2 linked regions of the Homo sapiens genome follow. The protein of the gene in region 2 binds, or shares a complex with, the protein of the main gene of each other region. Each region holds a gene or a part of one and is shown on either strand. Other genes may lie near its edges.

What was found. The genes of interacting proteins can lie anywhere in the genome.
Region 1: the proteins of PHF2 (region 2) and VRK1 are in contact, whole or in part, in a crystal structure (PDB 8F8Y), measured with the Homo sapiens proteins. Residues at the interface, in NP_005383.3 of Homo sapiens: Tyr7, Tyr14, Val16, Thr17, Arg18, Phe19, Met20, Ile21, Glu22, Trp29, Glu39, Ala42, Ile45, Asp46, Tyr48, Lys64, Tyr145, Ser147, Glu150, Lys175, Val178, Asp179, Tyr182, Ser183, Thr184; in NP_003375.1 of Homo sapiens: Pro2, Arg3, Val4, Lys5, Ala6, Ala7, Gln8.

What each region holds. Positions count from the first base shown.
Region 1 is NC_000014.9:96,800,264-96,804,019, forward strand, and holds part of VRK1 (serine/threonine-protein kinase VRK1), read left to right. Parts: intron 1-3,756. UniProt on the Homo sapiens protein: Serine/threonine kinase involved in the regulation of key cellular processes including the cell cycle, nuclear condensation, transcription regulation, and DNA damage response.
Region 2 is NC_000009.12:93,677,448-93,680,107, forward strand, and holds the end of PHF2 (lysine-specific demethylase PHF2), read left to right. Parts: intron 1-140; coding exon 141-229; 3' UTR 230-2,140; downstream 2,141-2,660. UniProt on the Homo sapiens protein: Lysine demethylase that demethylates both histones and non-histone proteins. Enzymatically inactive by itself, and becomes active following phosphorylation by PKA: forms a complex with ARID5B and mediates demethylation of methylated ARID5B.

The DNA of each region.
Region 1 (3,756 bases), on a different chromosome or scaffold from region 2:
AAGCACCCAGCATTCTGAAGTTGCTGTTTTGAAGTAATTTCATGCACTTTCCCAATTACTCCTGCTCCATCTCTCCCAATGTTGTCTTAAATCTTTGCACTCAAATTCAAGCACATCCTACTCCTCCTGTTCTGAGTGACATATGGGCAACACTTTAAAAAAGAAAAGCTCTCTAGAAAATCTAGAGAGGTACGAGCGATGGCCCTTCTCCCATATTAGGAGTTAGATTTTTAGTATTCATCAATAAATACTGATGAGAAGAAACTGCTCTACTTTTACCAACATTCTTCAGGAAATTTATTAAGATTTTTATTAGCCACAGTATCTTTGTCAGCTTGGAAACATATATGTTTGTGAATCACATTTATTTAGTCTTTAGGTAAGTATATGGATTTTGATGATTCTTTGCAGTTACTCCTATCTCTCTATGGGTTTCTTGCCCATAGGATGGGAACCAGTACTCTAGGATTTGAAAATTAAGGTAGATACTGTTCACACTGGCAAATATTTAAGATGAATATTAAACGTGTATACTAAAATGTTTATTGGTAAGTAATTCATTAAATGGGAAGATATACTAGATGAAGTAAATAATTAAATTGCAAGCACAAGCAAATTAAATTTGAGATTTGGGAATGGTCTGTCATATACTTTTAAAGCAAATATCATACTGATAATGGAAGGACACGTGTCTTGTGGAGCTCAGTATCAGGAACAATATAGTTGGTCCTGCAGGGGACTAAACATGAGAACTGAAAGTCATTAGGAACACGAGCAGCCTCATTCCACTGTTCCAGGGACCTTATAATTTCTTTCTGTGTATTTATTTTATTTTCTTTTTGAGGACCGTCTGTCTGGCTGTTTGTATGTCGGCAGATATGTCTGCTCTAGACTTAGATACTTGCTTTAAGAATCCAAAAGAGATTGCATTATCTAATTGTCATTTATATCTAAAATTAAACAAACCATGAAGTTAGACATAGCTAAGATAACCACAGCTTTATTTCAGGTTAATTGCTTTTCTTAGATTGTTTTTATCAAGTGACAGCTAAAGAAAAGTCATCATTTGATGACACTAAGTATTAGTGCATTGTGATTGCGTTTCACAATATTAAGTGTTAGAAAGAACTATTAGACCTTAAGTATTTATAGAATGTGTCTGGAAGACACAGGGAGAGAAACTGTTAATGTTTCTACTGTAGTCTTTAGAGTTGCTTTTTTCACATCTTATTGCAGTTTACTATGTAATTTGGCAACAGCTATCAACATAGAGATTATATGTAATTACAGTGTACCCTTGAACAACTCAGGGGTTGGGAGTGCTGACCCCCATGCAGTTGAAAATCCATGTATAAGCTTTGACTCCTCAAAAGCTTAACCACTCATAGCCTGTTGACCAGAAGCCCTACCAATAGCATAAACAATTAACACATATTTGTATATGTACTATATGCTATATTCTTACAATACAATAAGCTAGAGAAAAGAAAATATTATTAAGAAAACCCTAAGAAAGAGCAAATATATTTATTGTTCATGAAGCGGAAGTGGGCCATCTTAAAGGTCTTCATCCTCATTGTCTTGGTGTTGAGTAGGCTCAGGAGGAGGAACAAGAGGAGAGGTTGGTCTTGCTGTCTTGGAGTGGCAGAGGCAGAAGAAAATCTGTGTATAAGTGGACCTGCACAGTTCACACTCATGTTGTTCAAGGGTCAGCTGTATGCATTTTTTTCTTAGAGGTAATCTGTTATTTGGGAATCAGGAAAAAAGTTTTAAAATTCATTTTTTAAAAATAAGTTCAGGTTATAACATTTAAGAAGTTTAATCTTGTTTTTTCAGACTTGCAGAAAATACTTTAGAAATGCTGACTCTAAAATTTATCTTTCATATGTTGCTGGTAGGAATGTAAAATGATATAACCACTCTGGAAATTAGTTTGGCAATTTCTCGAAAAGTTAAACGTACATTTGACACACAATCCAGCGATTGCACTCCTGAGCCTTTATCCTAGAGAAATAAAAACGTTCACAAAAAAACCTGTACATGAATGCTCGTAGAAGCCTTGTTTATAATAGCTAAAAACCAGAAACAACTCACATGTCCTTCAGTGGGTGAATGGTTAAATAAAATGTGATAGTCTTGCGGTAGAACACCACCATCAAAAAAAGAAACAAACTGTTGGTTCATGCAGCAACTTGGTTGGAGTTTAAGGGCATTGTATTGAGTGAAAAAAGCCAGTCTCAGAGATTGTATGATTCCATTTATATAGGATTCTCAAAATGACAAAATTATAGAAATGCAGAACAGACCGGTTTTGCTGGGGTTAGGGCTGACTTTCTTTGAGATGATAGAACAGTTCAGTGTCTTGTTTATGGTGATGGTTACATGAATCTGTACACATGACACAATGTCCTAGAATTAGACACACAAAAGAATGTAAAAGCTGACATTTCAATAAGTAGTTCAGTGATGAATATTGTATTAGTGTCACTTTCCTGCTTTTGATAATTGCACAGTGCTTGTCCATTTTATGGCTGTATCACATTTAACCATTTACCCATGGAAGGCCATGTGGGTTGTTTCTGGTTTTTGGTGATTGCAGGTAAAGCTGCTATGAACATTAATGTACAGGTTCTTTTGTGACTGTAAGTTTTAATTGTTCTAGAATAAATATCTAGAAATTCAACTGCTGGGTCATATAGTGATAAAACCTTGAGCCCTCTTATTCTGTCCCAGGTGGGGTGTAAATCATCCCTTTGTCCAGCATATCCACACTGTATACACTACCCACCAGCTAGTTAGTCACTCTTGGTTATCAGATTGACTGTCTGGTGTCTTGGTGCTTGTGTTTGAGAATCCCTTATTGTACTTAGTAGTGACCCCAAGTGCAAGACTAGTGATGCTGGCATTTTTTTTTTTTTTTTTTTTGAGGCAGGTCTCTTATCTTGTCCCCCAGGCTGGAGTGCAATGGTGTGATCTCAGCTCACTGCAACCTCCGCCTCCCAGGGTCAAGCGATTCTCTTGCCTCAGCCTCCCTAGTAGCTGGGTCACAGGCGCCTGCTGCCACGCACCGCAAATTTTTGCATTTTAAGTAGAGACAGGGTTTCACCATTTTGGCCAGGCTGGTCTCGAACTCCTGACTTCAGGTGATCCGCCTGCCTCTGCCTCCCAAAGTGCTGGGACTGCAGGGAGTGAGCCACCGCATCTGGCCGCTGACATATTGTTATAATTACTCTTAGTATTGTTGTTAATCTCTTAACTGGCTCCAATTTATAAATTAAGCTTCATCATAAGTATGTCTATCTAATGTATGTATAGGAAAAAACGTATTTATGTAGGGTTCGATACTCTCCATACTCTCCACCATTTAAGGTATCCACTGAGGGCTTTGGAATGTATCCCTCACAGATGAAGGGGGTGCTGCTGTGTTTGAGAGATACAGTTTCTCCACAACCTCACTACCATTTGGTATTGGTGATATTTTTTGTGCGTACTGGTATCTTGTCATGGCTTTAATTTGCATCCTAATGGCTGATGATTTCATGTGCTTATTTGCCATTCATATTTTTTTTGGTGATTTGTCTGTTCAAGTCTTTTACCCGTTTTGTGATTGGTTTGTTTTCTTACTGATTTTAGAGCATTCTTTATATGTTGTGTATACAAAATCCTTTGCCAAATATATGATTTGTAAATATATTCTCTCAGTCTCTGGCTTGTCTTTTCATTCTCTTAACAGTGTCTTTAGCAGCAAAAAAGTTT
Region 2 (2,660 bases):
GGCTTCATAGGCCCATTTTACAGATGGGGGACTGCAGGCTGCCCCTTAGTGTCAGCGGGACCCTCCCCCCCACCGGCATGCCACGCCCCTTGCCATCTAGCTTACCTTCCCTTTTTGTGTCCCCTCCCCGACTCCCCTAGGAAAACGTACGAAAAAGGGCATGGCGACCGCCAAGCAGAGGCTTGGGAAAATTTTGAAAATTCATCGGAACGGGAAACTACTCCTTTAAGATTTGGAAAGCCAGGATCCTTCTGCTCCGCTCAGGACCCCCGGAGCCCCGCGAAAACATCTGCCTCCCAGGAGGGTGCCGAGCTGCCTCACCAGGGAGGGCCTTGCCTCTTCCCGGCTGCCATCTCCCCAACAAGCGTCTGTCCCTTCAGCCGGCAGAGCGAGCCCAGCGTGGCCCCTCAATTTGAAAATGGACGTCTTTTCTCAAGTTGCTAAGAGTGATCTGTCCCAGAAAAGCGGCCCTGCAAGTTTGAGGACCGCTTATTCCACTTTAAGGACAGCCTTCAGGCCCCCTGAGCGTGGGTGTGATTGCAGGGCCTCTGCAGCTCTGCTGAGAGCATGAGTCCTTCAAGGAAGACAGAGTGAGCCAATGCTCACCAGCCCCAGAGTCAGAGCTGGCCACAGGCTGGCAGCCTCCAGGGGCTTAAAAAAAAAGGCAAAGAACACAGAAAGAGGAGGAGCAAGTGGGATGTTTATGTCCCCCCTTCTCTTCCTGAGTGATTCTCAGCCAAGTCCAGACAGTGCTCGGCGGGTGAGGAAGGGTCTGCCCCGAGCTTTCTGGTTGGCAGGTGGCAGCAGGATGGTGGGTGTTCAGCCTGAATGCCCAGGAGCATTTCTGGGGGGCAGCTAAGACTGGCAGCTGGGTTGGTGTGTTAGCGGGCAGGGGAGCCATTGTGGGGTCCCCAGGAAAGGGCAAGGGCTCAGCCACATCTTGGGGTCTGGGAGGCCCAGGCTAAGCCATGTGGCAGGGACCGTCTTGCCCTGCTGGCCACACTCTGGAGAAGCACTTCTCAGCCAAGGCACCCCTGCCCTGGGACTGGCAGGGCAGGGGCAGGGGCAGGGACAGTGGCCAGGCGGCCCGAGGACTTACGGTCGGCACTTCTCTGTTCTCCCGTGTCAGCGTGTGGTGTCGCCTGCATGGGTCGTACCTGGATGGTGTGTCCACCATCGACACGGAGGGGCTGGATTTGTTTCTCAGGCAATCCTGTATTTTAATTTTAGATGTATTTCCTGAAGCATATTTTTCATAGAATGTAGCGTGTAAATAGCTTTTTAAATAACTTCTTTTTTATAAGAGTAAAAGTATCTTTAGGAATTTCTTTCTATAGAGTTCTTCATTAACATTTATACGAGTTTTTTGCTGAGTCAGATGGACAGTTGGGTTCTGATGCTTTTTCCTTCTCCTTTCCTTTTATTATTATTATTTTTTTCTTTTAAGAACTAAGGTATTGCCTGAAAAACAAGTGATGTCTGTGCAGCCTTACACTCTGTCTTTACAGAAGCAAATAGTACACAAAAGATCTATTTCAGACACATTTTGAAGATGAATCTTCAACTTTAATACCAGCTCTTTGTTTTCCTTGTATGATGAGGGGATTGGGGGATACAGTTATTTTACTAGCACCTTGTGAAGTGTTTCCGTGTTTTGTGATGCTGTAATTTATTAATGTTTGTAGCTTTTTATATTTGTACATTTCTTATGAGCTTTGTTTATATACCCATTACCTGGATGTTTTTGTCCACTGGGAGAGGCAGCTTGGTGGAGGCCTTATCCACTCCCACTTGTCCTGTTTGGAGGGACGCAGTCCCTAGGGCCCGAGACTGGGTGGGAGAGGGGGAGTCTCACGGGGCCCCAGGCTTATTCAGAACTGGTGTTTTTAAAGTTTCCTTTACCCTGCCCTTGTTGAACATTTATATAATCTAACCTGGACATCAAGCTGTTCTCTCTCTCTCTTTTTTTTAATTTTATTATTATTATTTTGGCAACATGTACATTTCTAACAAAGTTTATCGTGGCTATTAAAGTGTTTTATTTCCCAATTCATATTACTCTTGTATCGAGTCCATGAGGTCTAAGGCAACTTAGATCAAAGTTTTAAAAAAGTAAAAATATTTCAGGTTTTGTACAGAACCATGTCTGTGTCATTTCTGCCTCGACTGTAGTTGTTCACCCTGGCAGTGAGGGTGGTGGGGAGGCTCCAGCCACCTGCGTTCCTCATGGAAAGCTTCGGGTTGCTCAGCCAAATCACACACAGCACCCCAAGCTGGCTGGCAGGAGTGGACAGAAGAGACCCTCGGGGGCTGCAGGGGTGGCAGCAGCGTTTGTCAGTCCCAGCCCTGAGGATGTCCTTGGGAAGCCTCTAGAACCTTCTTTTGGACTCAAGGGTATGGCGTTTGGCTGAGTCCAGTAGGCACACACATGTGCACCCCAGCACGGATGCACACCCAGAAGCATTCAGTCCCTTGCACGGTTCTAGCCTAAGTCTGATGTGATTACAGCTAACTACCAGGAACAGCCCTTACCTGACAGAGGCACTCAAATGGTGCAAGCCCAGGGAGGGTGCTGAGCGCAGGGGTGGGGTCGCTGCTCGTGATGTGTGGCAGGCAGGGCTGCTGGGACACAGGTGAGGCCTGGGTCAGTCTGTTGGTGG